4 linked regions of the Homo sapiens genome follow. The protein of the gene in region 4 purifies or fractionates together with the protein of the main gene of each other region. This does not show direct contact. Each region holds a gene or a part of one and is shown on either strand. Other genes may lie near its edges. The genes, in order: LSP1, UNC13A, BSN and ERC2.

Region 1 (4,682 bases), on a different chromosome or scaffold from region 4:
ACGGGAGTCCCCAGGAAGGCCCAGGCTGGGCAGGCTCAGCTGGGGCTGGAGCAGTGGACAAGACAGCCCCCCGTGCATGTCACAGAGTGCCAGGTACGCCAGCCTGTGACGGTCTCAGGACATGCCCTCAACACTAGGTCCAGGGCAGGCCAAGCCCCTCCAGCTGGACAAGTGGGTCCAGCCCCTCAGACTGTCGCATGATGTGGCCCCTCCCCTCAGACTGCCCGGGACGGGGCCAGATTCCTCAGAACCACCCCTCCATGATGTGGTCTCTCAGATGCCCCCAGGACAGGACTGTCCTCTCCCACGAGGCCTCAGGCCAAAGAAGGTCCCCTGACCCTGGGCGGGGTCCAGGCTCCGCTTCGGCTACCAGCCAGGCTGGACTGCGGTTCCTCCACTCGGGGGCACTCCTGTCTCGCCCCGCTGTCCAGCAGACAGTCACTAGCTTGTCCTTGTCCCTTGGGGGCAGGGACGAGGATTTCACAGAGCTGCCTTGTGGCTCTGGGGGGACTCTCTGGTGACGCTGGGGGATGCCTGCCCTCTATAGCCCCCAAGAGCAAGGCTCTCCCCACACTGAGGAACTATCTGGCCTTGGAGGCCTTGAGGCGATGAGGACGGGGCGTCCTGGTCCACAGCTGGGGAGGGTCAGGTTGCCCTCTCAGACCTTGGGTTCGACATATCCAGATGTTGGAGCCCAGCTCTGCAGGGGTGTACCCTCCCTGGGGTCACACTGCATTTTTGGCTGCAGTGCCTGTCCTTGGCCCAGCTGCCCGGGGGTGCCCACCCGCCCAGGCGTGCCCACCCCATGTCCACACCTAGAAGGCAAGTCTGCCTGCCGCCACCCTGTCCCACAGACACCCTGGCTGCCCTCTCAGTCTGCCCCTGTGTAGCCCAGGCCCCCATCAGGATGACCCTACCCCCAGTCTGTTCCCCATGAGCGACCAGGCCGTGTCTCCCACGGAAAGAACCATTCACCAGCTACAGGCAAACTCCATGCCCCTGGGTGGCCATGCCAGGCCCTCCTGGCCTGGTTGAACTCACTTCCCATCCCACCAGCTTTCCCAGCTCTTCCCAGTTTTGGAAGGTGTCAGAGCCCTGGCACATGCCCCTCCTAGCATCACCCAACCGCCCTGCTCCTCTGCAGACCTTCAAAGGCCTGCCCAGCCCGCGGTGGGAGGCCGCTGCCCAGGGCTCTGGCAGCACCTGCCATGGACAGGGCCAGTCCTGGAGCCCCGCCTGGCCCATCGGAGCCTCCCTCGCTTCTCTGTGTGCTGAGCTGAGTTGGGAAGGGCAGGGATGACCTGAGGGGCTGCTCTGGCAGGGTTCCTTCTGGCCATCTGTCCCTGGAGACCCTCAGAGCTCCAGATTCTGAAGGAGGAAGGGGCTGGAGGCCCCCGGCAGCCCCCTGGAAGTCTTCATCTGAGCAGCAGGAGCCCATGGGATGGAACCCCCCAGGCAGCCAGGCCCTTGGGCAGCCCTCCCGCCCACCTGCCCTCCGAGCCAAGGCCAGGCACCACCTGGAGGATGTGCAATGCTCCACGCTGGGGCAGGTGGCCCTGAGAGCCCCCAGCGGTGCCCACGACTGCTCAGGAAAGAGGGCAGAGCTGGGGACAGTTGGGGAAGCCACCTCAGCCCCAGCCCTAGCCCCACAGGGGCTGCTGAGGGAGGTTAGGATTGAGGGCTAAGCCCTGGGGCTCCCTCCCTACACCTTCCTGTGGTCAAGACCTGATGTCTGGACCCAGGATCCCTGGGGAGGTCCCCTTCCTCCTGCCCTGGGTAAGGGGTCTGAGGCATCTGGAAGTTTCCCAGGGAAGCAGAAGGATGTCTTCTTCCTCGTGGGCTGGCAGGCGCTGCTGTCCACCGACACCCAGCTGGGCTGGTCGCACAAGTGGGAGCATCACAGGCCCCACCCCCGCTGATTCTGGAAGCCAGAATCCTTTCTTCCTGCGCCCCCTTCCTGGTTCCCTCGTGTCTCCTAAAACAATCCTGGAGCCACACAAGGGCAGTGCCAGGAGGGTCTGGGGTCCAGCTGGGACAGGCCCTGGCCGGTGACACCCTGGGGTGGCAGGATGGTGGGCCTCTGCTCCGCTACCCTACGGGCCAGCCTGTCTCCACCTCAGTTCCCTGAGAACGTGCCAGAGGGATGGGTGAGCCCTAGAGAAGAGGAGGGTGTTGGCAGTGGAAAGGGCCCAGTGGTCTCCCGCTCTGAGTCCTCAGCCTGGTGAGGGGTGGGGGCGTGAGCTCTGCCTTGCAGTCCCAGCCCCTGAGATCCCACTGCTGGGGCGGCGGGAGGGGGATGGGCTGCAAGGCCCCAGGGCTGGCCTTGCTTCGGCTGCTATAGGCCCTCGGAGTGCTTTCTGGATGAGTAAGCCGCACCCCTCTGAAGCCTCAGTTTCCCCATCTGCACACTCAGAATGTAGCCACTCAGACCAAGCGTTCACTCCATGCCAGTCTTTGCCAAGCTATTTATTTATTTATTTGAGACAGAGTCTCGCTCTGTTGCCCAGACTGTAGTGCAGTGACACAATCTCGGCTCACTGGAACCTCCGCCCTCCAGGTTCAAGAGATTCTCCCACCTCAGCCTCCTGAGTAGCTGGGATTACAGGCACCTGCCACTGCCCCCGGCTAATTTTTGTATTTTTAGTAGAGAAGAGGCTTTCACCATGTTGGCCAGGCTGGTCTTGAACTCCTGACCTCAGGTGATCCACCCGCCCCAGCCTCCCAAAGTCCTGGGATTACAAGCATGAACCACCGCGCCCTGCCTTTGCCAAGCTTTTTAAACCAAGGCTCTTGTTTCATCCCCCGGAGCTGTGAGGCAGGTCCCTGGAGCCTCCCATTTCACAGACGGAAACCGAGGCTCACAGGGGCCAAGTGCATTGTCCAAGGGCTGCTCCCTGCCTGGGGAGGGGCCTGAGTCCTTGCCCCTGTGGGGTTCGGGTGCTGAGGGCCCACAAGACCTGCGGGCACCAGGAGGGAGCTGGGCTGGGCTGCCCTTCCCGGGGTCTCTCTGACCCCACACCACACACCAGCCACTCTGGACTCAAAGGCTCCCAAGAGCACCAGAGCACTGCTCATGGCCCAAGCTCAGCAAGCACTTAAAGGGACCGTCCCGAAAAGCGGAACTGGGACCGGGCGCTGCAGGACCAGCAAGGTCCTCCACTTCCCTCCAGCCCAGCCCCGCCCAAATCCCAGCCCTCAGCATCTTTTTGGGGGCCACTAAAGACCTTCTGGGAGATGGCAGCCCAGGACCATAAGGCAATCGAAGAGGGCTTTCCACATGCGCTGAGGCAGACAGAACCAGGCCCTGGCTGTGGACGAGGCTGTATTGATACTTAGAAGAGAGGGAAGCGAGCGGGCTGGAGAGGCTCGGCCAGGGGGCAGCCCAGCAGGGCCCCTTCCCCAGGGTTAGACTCTCTACAGCCGGCCCAGCCCCCATCCCCTCCCCAACATCTAGGGACCTGAAAAGAGGTTGGAGGGGCTGCATGGGGGTGGGGTTGATAGGAGATTAGGGGATTGAGAAAGCCAGGCCTCCTAGCCGTGTCCCACCCAGCACGGCCCCACCAGTGCCAGACACAGGCAGACAAGGGAGGAGGGAGATGCTGAGCAGGGGTGGCAGGAGGAAAGCCCCTGGCCCTTTCTTGGGGCCAGGCAAGTCCTATCCTAACTCCATCTGCTAACTGCCTCCAAGCTGCTTGTGGGTTGTCGGGGAAGGGAGTTTGTGGCAGGGAGGGCCTCTGAGTCCCCTGTATCCCCCGGCAGGAGGAGGCAGGCACATGGGCCCCTGACCTCAGTGCTTGGAGCAGGGCCGCTCTGGTGGGGCATTTGTAGGTCACAGCATGAAGGGTTCCAGCATACTTCCTGGGTTCCCAGTTTCCCTGGGAGCAGTGGTATAGACGCAGGGGCCTCTACACACACCACACGCTCAGGGAGAGTGGCTGAGGTGTCCAGGATACTCTGTCCACTGGGGCAGGGGGTGGCTTCTAAGCCCAGTACCCTTCCCAGAGTCCCCAGTCTCCAGCTGCTCATGGGCTGCAGATGAGGATTCAAGGTTATGCAGGGGTCACTCTCCTGCTCCATCCCTGGCAGGTGGGACCTCACCTACTGCTTCTTTCTGCTCCAGAGAAGAGCACGTCCCCCTCATCTCAAAAGTGCCTGTGCTCCTCCTTCCTGAGTGGAACCTACACTTTTGACAGTTTGGTTTCTGAGGCAAGGCTGCCTCCTCCTCCTGTCCCAGGTACCTCCCCTCAGAAAAGCAATGGGACTTGGGATAGAAGGATCTAGCCAATTCGTTCCAGATGAATCTAGAAATAATCCTTTAGCCTTTCTCTTAGACCCAGTCCCAACCAAAATCTGAGCTTCATCACCACCACCCAGCACCCACCATTCACCACCCAGCCTCCAGCCCCCAGCCCCCAGCCCCCAGCCCCCAGCACCCATGACCCACCACCCTGCCCCCTACCCGTGGCTCTGGCCCATTCTCCTGCTGTCAGCAGTGCCTGCTTGAACAGAGGGCCACACTGAACAGATGCATGCTGCAAGCATTTGGAGGCTGCCTCCTCTTTAAATCACAGACATTTATCCACCAGGGATCACTCGGGAGCCAATGAGGCCACCACCCTGACCTCCCCTGTCCCCATGGGCTCTCTCAGTGCTCAAAGCACCTTTCACTGGGATGCTGCTCT
Region 2 (4,682 bases), on a different chromosome or scaffold from region 4:
ATCACTGTTCCCTTCTGACCCATCTGGAGTCTCACCGGGTCTGTCTGGTACTCCCGGCTGTACAGTTCATGGCAGTTATTGAAGATGTACTCGTAGGTAGAATTAAGGCAGGCTTTCACACAGTCCTTTACCACCTGGCTGGCTCGGGGCGGGCTCTGGAGTTCTTGTACCTGAAGGGAGGGAGAGAGGCATAGGCGGCCACAGCTGTGACAGGAGGTCCCCAGGAAGTGACTGCGAGTCATTTTGGGTTTAAGGAAATGAAGTGGTATGAAAGGAAAAGGTTACTGAGAAAGGCTGCCACTCTCCAGGAGGAATGTCACTTGTCCTGGGAGCTGGGGATCCTAGAGAACCCTCCTTGGAGAGCAAAGGCAACTGGATCCTTTCCTACCTTCATCCGAAAGAAGGTGATGCTGGTGAGAAGGTCCACAGTGGATTTGAGGTCCTGGAGTCTCTCCGGGCTGCTGGCTGGGAAGTTATTCTGTTGGGAGCAGGAAGAGATGTGGGGTTATGGAAGAAGGCGTGGGGAGGATGGGAGACTGCTTTTCAGGGGGATACAAAGGCTCCCCGGTTTCAGGCTGGGGGTTGATTAGAGCACCTCGAAGCAACTGGGGATCTGCTTGGATGCACCAAGCACATTACGGCAGGTAGTGCCCATGCAGGTGCACACATGCTGGAGGAACACATCGTACATGCGAAGATGGGTCCTCCCATGCACACACCTGCTGGTAGCTTTCCCCTCCAGGCACACACATGTGCGTGGGGTGAGCAAATTCTCATGCACACACTTCCTACCCGGTACATGGAGAGGTCAATCCGCAGGGAGTTATGCAGCTGGTCCAGGAGTTTCACGAAGCGCTCTTTCTGAGGAGGAAGGGGAGGAGGGAGGATGGATGGAGGCAGGACATGGCCGCCATAGTGGCTGAGCGCCTACTGTACAGTAAGTATACCTCATCCACCACCCTCATAATGTCCATTTCCATTCTATGGCATTTTTTTTTTTGTTTTGAGACAGAGTCTTGCTCTGTTGCCCAGGCTGGAGTGTAGTGGCGCAGTCTCAGCTCACTGCAACCTCCGACTCCTAGGCTCAAGCAATTCTCCTGCCTCAGCCTCCCAAGTGGCTGGGACTACAGGCACAGGCCACCACACCCAGCTAATTTTCTTTTGGATTTTTAGAAGAGACGGGTTTTCACCGTGTTGGCCAGGCTGGTCTCGAACTCCTGGCCTCAAGTGATTCTCCAGCCTCGGCCTCCCAAAGTGCTGGGATTACAGGCATGAGCCACTGCGCCCGACCTCCATTCTATAGCATTCTACAGAGGAATAAATGGAGGCTCAGAGACGGGAAGTGACTGGTGGAAAGTCACACAGCAATCAGGTCTAGACTGGGGACCCAGAAGTCACATCAGATCTGACCGGCATAAAGTTGGGCTCTCCCTAATTCTCCAATCCCAGTCCCCAGGACTGACCCCAAAGTTGGAGGCGGCGAAGCGGTCGGAGGCAGACACGTTGGTGGAGGCGGTGGTGTGTGCGTAGTAGGCATTGATGTTGGCGAGCAGGGTGCTCATGACGGCAGGCACCCCTGGGCACATATACTTGGAGGAGAGGCAGGCAAAGTGGCTGGAGAGAGGGAGCAGGAGGCACTAGGCCAGGGGTCCAGCCAGGATGGACCAAGATCCCCCCTAGAATGCCTCCAAGATAGCATCTGTGAGTGGGTCTCTGTCACCTCCTAAACCATCCCCTGCCTGATTCTGTCCTTTGGGTCTCCGCATCTCCTCTCCCCTCCATCTTTATATCCATTTGAGTTGCTCTAATTCTGCTTCTTTTTTTCTTTCTTTCTTTTTTTTTTTTTTTTGAGATGGAGTCTCACTCTGTCACCCAGGCTGGAGTTTAGTGGCGCAATCTCGGCTCACTGCAACCCCTGCCCCCCAGGTTCAAGCAATTCTCCCACCCTAACTTCCCGAGTAGCTGGGATTACAGGCCCAAGCCACCACACCTGGATAACTTTTGTATTTTTAGTAGAGATGGGGTTTCACCATGTTGGCCAGGCTGGTCTTGTACTCCTGGACCTGGAGTGATCCGCCCACCTCAGCCTCCTAAAATGCTGGGATTACAGGCTTGAGCCACTGTGCCCAGCCTCTATCTCTGCTTCTAAGTCTTCCCTCTCTTCCATGTCACTCCAGGTGTCAATCACAGCGCTCTCCTGATCTCCAGGGGAATTACGGAACCCACCACCACCACGCCCACTTCCTCTCTGGGTCTTCCCCCTGAGAATCCCTCCCACCCCAGACCTGCCAGTGCCCACTTGGTGACCTCCCTCTTGTTTCCTGCACCCCAGCCTGCAGTCTCACGTCATGGCTTGGTAGATGGACTCGACGCCGTAGCGCATGGCAAACTCGTCCACAATCTCCTGGGCTGTCTCATCGTAGTAAACCTTCCAGGCATCGTCACCCTTGGCATCTGGGATCTTCACGACCCCATTGTTCTGCACGTCGGTCACGAAGTGGAACAGGTTCTGCCACCATGGGAGAGAAAGTGTCATGGAGAGTGCAAGGGGTCGCCGGGGGTCAGAGGTCCCAGGGTCTGGGGCAGCTTACATCATCCATCTGCCTGTTTATTCATTAATTCATTCATCTACTCTTTTATCCATCCACACACCCACCCATCTAACTACCCCAAATTTCACCCATCCACTCTTCCAACCTTTCAGTAATTCAACCACACATCCATCCATCCATCCATTCATCCATCCCATACATTGATCCGCAACTTAATCCACCTACCCAATCATTCATTCTTTCATACAACCAACCATCCATCCACCCATCAATTTATCCAACCATCCATTTTTCGTCTGTCCACCAGCCACTCACAACCATCCATCTAAATATTCAGAAATTATGAACCCAATTATCAATACTTGCAATAGTTCAACCACACATCCTTCCATTCATCCACCCACCCATTCATCCATTTGTCCATCTGCCTATACATCCATCCATCCATCCATCCATCTACCTATCTACCCATCTGACTATCAACAAATTCACCTATCTACTCAATCTTCCTTCTAATAACTCAACCACACTTCCATCCATCCCATCCAATACAACTTAATCTGCTCATCCAACATTTCATCTATCCACCCAGTCAATCATCTATCCAGCAATCTATCTATCCACTCATCAAGTTATCCATCCATCATTCATCTATACTCATCCATCATCTAACAATTACCCCCAAATTCACCCATCCATACATCTATACTTTCAATAGTTCAATCATATATCCATCCATCTGTCCATCCATCCATCATCCATCTAGCCACGAATCTACCCACCAACTCATCCATCTATCCATCCATGTACTCACCCATCTCTCCATCCATCCTTTTATCTACTCATCACTCATTCATCTGTTCAATCATTCATTCATTCACCAGCATTTATTCAACAAACTAGTTCCTGGGGATAAGAGTTCTTTCCAGGAAACCCAGGCAGCTGGAAGAGACATACCCAGACACAAACGGCCCAATCCTGAGTGGTTAGGGCTGGAATAGAAGGAAGAACCTGATGATGAGTAGTGAGAGTCAACCTGGAGGCCAAGGTGGGCTTCCCAGAGGAGGTGACCCTGAATCTGGACTTTGATGGATAGGGAGGAGTTTTCCAGGTAAAGGGAATGGCATGGCGGGCAGTCTCAGAGGGCCAGGAGAGTGTGGATGGTGTGGCCAGAAAGAGGAAGAGCTGGGCAGGCAGGAATGGTGAGTGGAAGTGGCATGGGAGGGGCCGAGCAATGACCCTCACCTCATGCAGACAGGTGTACTGGACATGGTACGGGGCCACCTTCTCCTCGCCTTTGATCTCCACACTGATGTGGAGCCGGATGGCACCCGACACGGCAGATTTGTCAGTTCGCTTGTCTGCAGGGCAGAAAAAGAAGACAGTGTCAGAACTTCCCACTATAGCAGTGGGCAATTTTTTTTTTTTTAAGAGGGAGTCTTGCTCTTGTCACCCAGGCTGGAGTGCAGTGGCACGATCTCAGCTCACTGCAACCTCCACCTCCTGGGTTCAAGCGATTCTCCTGTCTCAGCCTCCCAACTAGCTGGAATTACAGGTGCCTGCCACCGTGCCCAGCTAATTTTTATACTTTTAGTAGAGACGGGGTTTCACCATGTTGGCCAGGCTGGTCTCGAACTCCTTACCTCAGGTGATCCACCTACCTCAGCCTCCCAAAGTGCTGGAATTACAGGCGTGAGTCACCGCGCCCGGCCAGCCATGGGCAAATTTTTTTTTATTTTATTTTTTTTTGAGATCTGTGGTCCAGGTTAGAGTGCGGTGGCGCAATCTTGGCTCACTGCAATCTCCACCTCCTGAGTTCAAGCAATTGTCTTGCCTCAGCCTCCCGAGTAGCTGGGATTACAGGCATGTGCCATCACACCCACCTAATTTTTTATTTTTAGTAGAGACGAGGTTTCACCATGTTGGCCAGGCTGGTCTCGAACTCCTGACCTCAGGTGATCCGCCCGCCTCGGCCTCCCAAGGCAATTTTTAATAGATACACGATTCTGTAGTCCTCCCAGACTTCCGGAAACTAAGGCTTTGGTGTCTCTCTTCTGATTGGCTCCCTAGGCTTGAGTCTCCCTGTTTAGGCTAGAATTCCTTAAGCCCTGTCTCTTCCTTCAAACAAGG
Region 3 (4,682 bases), 6.8 Mb from region 4:
CCCCACAGCCTTCCAGCCACATACCCTACTAGAAGCTTCAGCCTCCTCCCAGCACTGTCCCTTCACCACCCACACCTGGTCCAGCCCCTGCTACCTCCCCCTTTAGGCCTCTTCAGCTCTCACTTCTAGTCTGGACCCCTTCCACTCCAAACTTAATCTATGGGTGTTTCCTAAGAAAATCAGTCATATGAACCTGGCGCGGCTGCTCTCGTCCTCTCAGTCCTGGCCTGGTTTCCATTGCCACACAGGAAGCCCACACCCCTATGGCCTAGCACTAGAGGCCCATCCCAGCGGGCTGCAGTGTGCTCTCTGCCCCAGGGTGTTCTCTGCCCCTACCTGGCCCTCGGTAAATCTGTTTACACATCTGTCTGCTCCCCTAGATAGGGGATTCAGAAGCATAAGCTTACCCTTGGTTGTGGCTTTATTTGCCAGTGATGGATGGGGACTGTGAGAAGTGGCTTGGCTGTGGGCTGCAGCCAAAGTGAGAATAGAGGGTTGTGAGGGCCTAATGCCAACAACTGAGTGCCAGGCTGAGGAGGATGGGCTTTTCCTAAAGACCCTGGAAGCCTCTGGAGGTTTTAGGCATGTGAGATGGGACAAAGCAGATGTTTTGGAAAGTTTCCTGGGCAGAATGTGGGAGGGTGGGCTGAAGGAAGAGACCTGGCAGAGGAGGCAGGAGCCAGAGGCATCGTAAGGTAGATTTGCCCATTTTCAGGGTGTGACACAGAGACGAGAAAAGTGGAGCCTTAGAATGGGGTTTGTGGAGGTGATAATCTTGGGTAGTGAAGTCTTGGTGTATGCAGGCCATATAGGGGTGTGGGTGGGATCAGGACTCTAGGCTGGCAGGGAGGGCAGGTCAGAGAGGCAGGGTGGTCCTGGCTGCAGGCACAGAGGTCCCATGGGCTGGCCATGTGAGACCAGGCCATGATAGGCACTCATGATGCGTGGCCAAAATAAGAAAAGAGACAACAGAGTGAGGGGTTCAAAAGGCTAAATTTATTCCATAAAAGGCCCACCCTGAAATTTTGAGGGCACACTATAATTTTTATTATGACATATGGTGGATGTAGGTGGGAGGTTTTTAGGTAGTTACTTGGCAAGGTAAAAAGTAAGAATCCTATAGGAGTCACTTCCCAGTATATATTGGAATTTGGGTGGTCCATGAAACCCAAGGGCATGGGGCATTCTGGGAAGGCTAGGAGCGAGAGAAAAAGGGAGAAGACAGAGTGAACTACCAGGCAATGTGGACCTTCAGGCAATGCAGAGTGTCTAGGGTAGGCAAGGAGGACCCCATGGTAGGCACTGTTAGGGAACCTTGACCAGGAAGCCATGCTGCTGGAGGTAGGGCTGGATAGGACTTACGGGTGCACTGGTGGCTCCAGAGAACAGCAGGTTGACCGAGGGACATGGAGGGAGCTGGGGACCAGGCCAAGAGCACAGCCCAGAGGGTTTGGCAGAGGGCAGTGCAGGGCACTAGAGGAAGAGGGTGGGCAGGCAGCTGAGGAGCCTTCCACTTTAGAGAGGACTAGGGCAGGATGCAGAATGACTCAGAGCCTGCCACGATTGGCATACAATCTACATGTGTCCCTTCCCATGATCCTCTAGGGAGCCTGGCGGGCCCAGGACCCTCTCCACTCCATGCCTCCTGTTCATACTCCACTGATCTCAACCCCTGTCAGCTGCTAGGCCCCAAACCCAGAGCCACAGCTGTACTCTTCTTACCTCAATGTGAGGCAGAGGGTGGCAGGCCCATTGGAGATGTGCAGGGGTTCTCAAAGCCATGTGCTGGGCCAGTACAGGACATTGGCATGAAGGGAATCTGCCCGTACCCTCCTGCTTCCCAAAGCTCTGGGAAAGAGAAGGGCTGTAAAATAATCACAGATCTTCCCTCTATGGCAAAGAAACCAAGGCCTATGGGTGGGCAGGGTAGGCCTCCAGGCTGCCTGGTAAATCAGGGCACCAGCAAGATGGAACCCAGCTCCTTCCCCAGCCCAGGCCTGGGTTCTGCCACCCCACACCCCATCAAGTCACCACACCTTGGGTCTCAGTGCTGCCCACCCTTCCCTCTGTCTCAGGTGTCGGCGTTGCCACCCAACAGCCTGGTCCGCAAGGTGAAGCGGACACTGCCCAGCCCCCCTCCAGAGGAGGCTCACCTTCCCCTGGCTGGCCAGGCCTCCCCACAGCTGTATGCAGCCAGCCTGCTGCAGCGAGGGCTGACGGGGCCCACCACTGTCCCTGCTACCAAGGCCAGCCTGCTCCGGGAGCTGGACCGGGACCTGCGGCTGGTGGAGCATGAGTCCACCAAACTGCGCAAGAAGCAGGCAGAGCTGGATGAGGAGGAGAAGGAGATTGACGCCAAGCTCAAGTACCTGGAGTTGGGTATCACACAACGCAAAGAGTCTTTGGCCAAAGACCGGGGTGGCCGTGACTACCCACCCTTGCGTGGTCTTGGCGAGCATCGTGACTACCTATCGGACAGTGAGCTCAACCAGCTGCGGCTCCAGGGCTGCACCACTCCCGCTGGCCAGTTTGTGGACTTCCCTGCCACTGCCGCTGCTCCTGCCACCCCCTCTGGTCCCACTGCCTTCCAGCAGCCCCGCTTCCAGCCTCCAGCCCCACAGTATTCTGCAGGCAGTGGTGGGCCAACTCAGAACGGATTCCCAGCCCACCAGGCCCCCACCTACCCTGGCCCCAGCACGTACCCAGCTCCTGCCTTTCCTCCTGGTGCCAGTTACCCAGCTGAGCCTGGCCTGCCAAACCAGCAGGCTTTCCGCCCCACAGGCCACTATGCAGGCCAAACACCCATGCCAACCACACAGAGCACCCTTTTTCCAGTCCCCGCTGATAGCCGTGCCCCACTGCAGAAGCCACGCCAGACATCGCTAGCCGACTTGGAGCAGAAGGTGCCCACCAACTATGAGGTGATCGCCAGCCCCGTTGTGCCCATGTCTTCAGCCCCATCTGAAACCAGCTACAGTGGCCCAGCAGTGAGCAGCGGCTATGAGCAGGGCAAGGTCCCTGAGGTGCCCCGGGCTGGTGACCGTGGCAGTGTGAGCCAGAGCCCAGCCCCCACCTACCCCTCTGACTCACACTATACCAGTCTGGAGCAGAACGTTCCTCGAAACTACGTAATGATTGATGACATCAGTGAACTGACCAAGGACAGCACCTCTACTGCTCCTGATAGCCAACGGCTGGAGCCCCTGGGGCCAGGCAGCAGTGGGCGTCCAGGGAAGGAGCCTGGAGAACCAGGTGTCCTTGACGGGCCCACACTGCCCTGCTGCTATGCCAGAGGAGAAGAGGAATCTGAGGAGGACTCATACGATCCCCGCGGGAAGGGTGGCCACCTCCGGAGCATGGAGAGCAATGGTCGACCAGCCAGTACCCACTACTATGGTGACAGTGACTACAGGCATGGGGCTCGAGTAGAGAAGTATGGTCCAGGGCCCATGGGGCCCAAGCATCCCTCCAAGAGCCTGGCTCCAGCTGCCATCTCCTCAAAGCGCAGCAAGCACCGGAAGCAGGGCATGGAGCAAAAGATATCCAAGTTCTCGCCTATTGAAGAGGCCAAAGACGTAGAGTCAGACCTGGCGTCCTACCCCCCACCTGCAGTCAGCAGCAGCCTGGTCTCTCGGGGCAGGAAGTTCCAGGATGAAATCACCTATGGGCTCAAGAAGAACGTGTATGAGCAGCAAAAATACTATGGGATGTCCAGCCGGGACGCAGTGGAGGACGACCGCATTTATGGCGGGAGCAGCCGGTCCCGGGCACCTTCTGCATACAGTGGGGAGAAGCTGTCCAGCCACGACTTCAGTGGCTGGGGCAAGGGGTACGAAAGGGAACGGGAGGCTGTGGAGCGACTTCAAAAAGCGGGCCCCAAGCCCTCATCCCTAAGTATGGCCCACAGCCGGGTACGACCCCCCATGCGGAGCCAGGCCTCTGAAGAGGAGAGCCCCGTCAGTCCTTTGGGGAGGCCCCGCCCTGCCGGAGGGCCCCTCCCTCCCGGCGGGGATACCTGCCCACAGTTCTGCTCCAGCCACTCCATGCCTGATGTCCAGGAACATGTCAAGGACGGACCTCGGGCCCACGCATATAAGCGTGAGGAGGGCTACATCCTGGATGATTCCCATTGCGTGGTTTCCGACAGCGAAGGTAATGGCAGCCAGGGGTGATTTCTGCGGATACTCAGCAGCTGGGGGGCCTGCCTACCTGTGGGGCCCTGGGCCCTAAGATGTCCCAGCAGGGTCTGGTCTGGCGCCTCATCTGGTGGGCCCTGCTGCAGGCAGGCTGCCCTTGCCTGCTCCATCTGTGCCCTGGTCCGTGGTTGCGGGAGGGTGGGCTGGGGGCCTGCTGATCTGCTTGTGGCTGTGGCACCCACTCTCTTGGTTTCTTTGCATGGCTTCAGCTAGGCCTCCCCCTGCGGCTAGCCCGGGGGTTGATGGTATTCTGTTTTTGGTCTCTGAAGCGTATCACCTGGGCCAGGAGGAGACGGACTGGTTTGATAAGCCCCGGGATGCCCGCTCTGACCGGTTCAGGCACCACGGGGGCCATGCAGTTTCCTCCTCCTCCCAGAAGCGAGGCCCTGCCAGGCACAGCTACCATGACTACGATGAACCCCCTGAGGAGGGCCTGTGGCCTCATGATGAGGGTGGCCCAGGCCGCCATGCCTCAGCCAAGGAACA
Region 4 (4,682 bases):
TCCCTGAACTCCCCTACAAAATTACCTGCTCTATTATGGTCCTCTTGACGTGTACACACCCTATTCCCAGAAGAAGACTGGCACAAAGCAAGCATACACTTTTACGACGACTACATAACAGAATGGCTTAATTCTTTGTTACTAATGTCTATTATGAAAGAACACCAGCCACTCCTGTTTTCCAGGTTAAAATAACTAATAAAATGATAATTACTTAGTTGAACCTTTGCATGAAGAAACTGTTGTAAAAATATATATATAATAGATCTAGAAGAGTGCCTTTGAAGCAAATTGGACTAGATGATAGAGAAACAGAGATCCCAAATAAGGAGAAAGCTAGTGGCAAAGCCAGAAAGGGAACTTAGGGCTTGTGACCCCAGGTCAGTGCTATGTCTCTGTATCCAAAAGAATCTGCTCTGAAGTTATTCTAAGCAACTATTCATGTTGTGAATTCAAGGTGGCCCATGAATGCATTCAAAGCCCATGTATAAAAAGAGAGTTATTTCTCAGCTTTAACAAAAAAGGTGAAGAATTCCCCTTGCGTGCCCACACTAACTGCTCCACGCTCACAAGCCTGATGAACAGCAGCCACTAAGACCCAGGTGCTTTTGTATCCACCCAGCATCAAACAGGACCTATTTTCAACAAGCCCATACGAATGCCACGCTGTTATCCCACTCACTACCCAACCTCCTGCTTCCTGTCAGGGAGAGGCTTCATGAACAATACGAATAAAGGGTCAAAATGCGAAACAAAGAAGGGGGAGGAGGGAATGTTACAGCCTTAGAAGGGAAGGAAAAACATACATCACCAGAAGGAAAGAAAAGACATCAAAAATCCTCTCCTGAGATGTCAATGTAAAAAAAGAGTCAACAACCCTGCTCCTCTCGGAACCCGCCCCTTGAACCACGACTGCTCCTCGAGGTGATGACAGCTGGAGCTGGCTGACAAAACGGAGCATGGCTAATCTGCCTCAAGCCAGGCACAAGAAAGACATCTTGGTAGAAATTTGATGCCCACCAGTATCACTGAGAAAATAACCAGTGATCATGGGACCGCCCTAACCTCACATCTGGCAGAGCTGCTCAACTCTCACTGCCAGAGCAGCTCCCAGACCCCAAACCCACCTTCAATCACCTCAGGCCCATAGAGGATGAACTCCTGACCACACCTATCTTATTATAGAGAAATATGCCACATAAGAACTGGTAACCACAGTGCACAACTAGGTTCAATTTCTTATAGGAAACCCTGCTCTTTCTTACTGCAATTAGTCATACCATTTAGCAGAAATCTTTCACGGTTTGCATAAGGATCTGAGCATATTCTTAAAGAACAGTCACATTGCTCAATTCCCATTCAAGCTCTTGTCTTCTGACCCACTAAGAAGTTGCCTTGAATTAATAGTTTGCTCCTAATGCATTTAGGGTAAATGCACTTTGCTGCCTGCAACTCATTCATGCCCTGAAATCACAGAATGACAACTACCTTTAGGGGTGGAAAGTATTAAGACAGGAAAAGAGAGCTAATGCTATCAGACCACACACACACACACACACACACACACACTCACACAGGATAATTAAGTGAGCAAAATGTAGACTCTGAAAAATAAACCATAGCAAAACTAAGTTGCTGGTATAAGATGTCTATGAACATTGCGGCTGGCCTTTGGTTTTCAGGTATATCTCACAGATGCCCTTCCAACTCTTCATCCAGTGGGGCTATAATCTCACCATTGACTTCCAGGAAAAAATAACCACTTAGTTCCTTCCTGAAGGTTCTTCCTGCCTTTATTTATTTTCTTCTCTTCTTCCATGCACACGCACTCTCTCTCTTTTTAATTTTGTTGAGTGCTGATTAGGTGCCAGCAACTAGAGATTCCTGGGCTCTGACCAAGCGAACTCTGCTTGGCAGAGTCAACATGAGTTCAAGAACAGAGGAAATGCAACTTCAAAGCAACAAATCTGGAAGATGTAAGTGGAGAAGTAATGCCCAAGAGGTTAAGAGCAGAACTTTGAGGCACGCCCTGGGAATTGGCCAGCCAAGTGCTGAAGAAATTAGGCTGGAGTAGCAGATGAACTGGCCCAAGAGAAGGGTAACCAATTATATTAACAATTAAGTCAGTGATGTAGTGGCCTTGGACTTCCCCAGCTGAAAGAATGAGCAGAAAATCACAAAGAAGGCTCGGCCCTGGCTGTGAAAGTGAGACAGCTTAGAGCTCCTGGTGCTTTTGGCATTGACAATGGTTAAGGCTTGTTGGTTGTTTCTGTTGTAATTGTGGGGCCACTCATTGTTTCTACTTTCTCTAGTGATAATTTAGCAGCCTTGAGAGTAAGGCAGAGGTGGATTCAAACTCTGGCTCTGCCACAGCATTAACTCTGAGCAAGTTTTTCTGTTCCTTCAGTCATTTGACAAATACTTACAGAACATCTAGGCACTAGGGATACAGCCAAAGGCAAAGCTCCTGCCTTTATGGAACTTATCAAATTATTTGAGTCTCAGTTTCCTCACCTATAAAATGGGATAATACATTTACCTGTATAGGTAATATGAAATGAGCAATATAAAGCACCTAGCACAGTGCCTACCACATAGTAAATGCTCAATAAATGGTGCTCTTCATATAACAGAGCAAACGTATCCATCACTTCCAACTGGAGTATTAGCTCCAAGTAGTAAGGAACTATCTGTTGTTCATCTCTGTACCCCCAGTGCCTAACACAAAGTAGATACTCAATAAATACTTCACAAATCAATCACTACTTAATAACAGCCATTGTTATGGTAACTTATAGTCATTATTCCTCTCTAAGCCACAGAGATTCTATACTTGAAAAAGCAACATGGCGGCCTAGCGTGGTGGCTCACGCCTGTAATCCTAGCACTTTGGGAGGCCGAGGCGGGCGGATCACGGGGTCACGAGATCAAGACCATCCTGGCTAACACGGTGAAACCCCGTCTCTACTAAAAATACAAAAAAAAAAAAAAAAAGCAAGATGGCATAAAGGCTTTTTTTTTTTTTTTAAAGAACAGTGAGGTGCACTATACAATATGTCTTCAGGAACTTTTTAAGCATGAAAACAAATGTTATTGAGCATAAAGCTTTCAATTCAAAGAATCTATTAGCACAGAGACCAGCACGGACAGCGGATGTAGATGCCAGCCCACTCTTTTCCTAACTACAAAGTAAGGACAAGCTGGCCAGGCTTCAGGTTAATCCAGAAGGCACCCAAAAAGTAAGTTACATAAAGTTTAGCAGATGTGCTCAAAGATGGTGTATCAGTAAAGATAAGCAGAAAAGTGCTGCAGAAACCAAAAATCACAAAACTCTTCATGGCTTAAAACAACCAAAGTTTACTTCTTGGTCTATATGTCCAACTCCAGTTGACGGGAAGCTGTGTTCATTTAGTGACTGAAAGGCCCAGGCAGATGAAGGGCTCCATCTCAACACACATTTCCGTAATCATTGCAGTAGAAGAGGGCACTGGGTGCTCTCACACTGGAAATCAAATATTCTAGCATGGAAGTGATGCAAGCCACCTCCAACATATGCCTGGAAGGAAAGAAAAAGTGGCTATGGGGAACATTAACAGTCTCTACCACAGATGATATTAAGACACAACCTGTGGAATAACAAAGGGATTTGTTAAAGATGATGCACAAATAAAACATCTGAACAGCTATAAGATTCACATAATCATGAACCAGGAAGGGTGTGTAGGTGTCATTTTAGAGCAGTGGCCTCAACATAAAGACACTTCATACAACATAAATCTGGACCCTAAATTTCCAGAACAGCTCTGCTTTCTATAAATATACTGAGGGTCCAGATAAATTTTTATTTAGGAAACAAAGTTTTAACAGCTGAAAAACATTTGAAAACTATGAATGTAAACCAAATCCTTTATTTTACAAATTTAAAAAGTAAAGAGAAGAAAAAAAGGAGACACAGACAGTTAAAGTAACCCCAATCTACCCCTCAAGGAAGGTCTAGAATGTTTAGCAGAAATAAGTCCATGGACAGAATCTAATGTACCACTGCAGCACCTTCTGACCTTACCCTTCATCTCTGCTACCTTTAACTGGCACAGTGGAGCCAGACCCAGACCAAAGTCATTTAATACAAGGTCGTCAAGGGCTCAATAAATGGTATTGACAATGAGTAGAAGACCCCACCCCACAGCATGAAATAGTGATTCATATCTCATTAGCAATTCTCTACATTACTCATTCCCTACTTCTGGGCAAATGTGAAGCCATCAGTAGAAGTGAATACTAGCCTTCAGGAGACTTTCATTTTGCTCTCAGATGATCATAGGTTAACAGCAACTATGATTTGGGTTCACTCAATTCCATTATCTTCTCATGTCCCCAGCTCTGTTTCATGCCCAGTTTTCCCTCCACCTTCACTCGTACTAAAGCATGTATGTCATGCACTCAAGCCTCAGTGGTCTCCCAACCTCTGGTCTCTGTCTTTTTCAATGGCTTTATACTCACTAGCCCATGAAATCAAACTCAAATATTTCAACCAGGAATCCAGATGCCTCCTAAATCTTAATCCAGCCTAATTTTCCAACATTATCTCCACTATGGTACTTGTCCTGCACAGCCAGAGGCAAGATGATGATCCTGAAAGTCAAAATGATGTTGTTTTGAACCCCCAATGCTTCTACTTACTG

The links.
Region 1: the proteins of ERC2 (region 4) and LSP1 purify together in Homo sapiens (affinity purification with western blotting, with the first as the bait; one study listed by BioGRID). This does not show direct contact.
Region 2: the proteins of ERC2 (region 4) and UNC13A purify together in Homo sapiens (affinity purification with western blotting, with the first as the bait; one study listed by BioGRID). This does not show direct contact.
Region 3: the proteins of ERC2 (region 4) and BSN purify together in Homo sapiens (affinity purification with western blotting; one study listed by BioGRID). This does not show direct contact.

What each region holds. Positions count from the first base shown.
Region 1 is NC_000011.10:1,855,293-1,859,974, forward strand, and holds part of LSP1 (lymphocyte-specific protein 1), read left to right. Parts: intron 1-4,171; exon of another isoform or gene 4,172-4,244; intron 4,245-4,682. UniProt on the Homo sapiens protein: May play a role in mediating neutrophil activation and chemotaxis.
Region 2 is NC_000019.10:17,639,048-17,643,729, forward strand, and holds part of UNC13A (protein unc-13 homolog A), read right to left. Parts: intron 3,914-4,682; coding exon 3,798-3,913; intron 2,510-3,797; coding exon 2,346-2,509; intron 1,615-2,345; coding exon 1,464-1,614; intron 862-1,463; coding exon 793-861; intron 479-792; coding exon 389-478; intron 171-388; coding exon 36-170; intron 1-35. UniProt on the Homo sapiens protein: Plays a role in vesicle maturation during exocytosis as a target of the diacylglycerol second messenger pathway.
Region 3 is NC_000003.12:49,658,411-49,663,092, forward strand, and holds part of BSN (protein bassoon), read left to right. Parts: intron 1-2,075; coding exon 2,076-4,152; intron 4,153-4,465; coding exon 4,466-4,682. UniProt on the Homo sapiens protein: Scaffold protein of the presynaptic cytomatrix at the active zone (CAZ) which is the place in the synapse where neurotransmitter is released.
Region 4 is NC_000003.12:56,457,988-56,462,669, forward strand, and holds part of ERC2 (ERC protein 2), read right to left. Parts: intron 1-4,682. UniProt on the Homo sapiens protein: Thought to be involved in the organization of the cytomatrix at the nerve terminals active zone (CAZ) which regulates neurotransmitter release. Seems to act together with BSN. May recruit liprin-alpha proteins to the CAZ.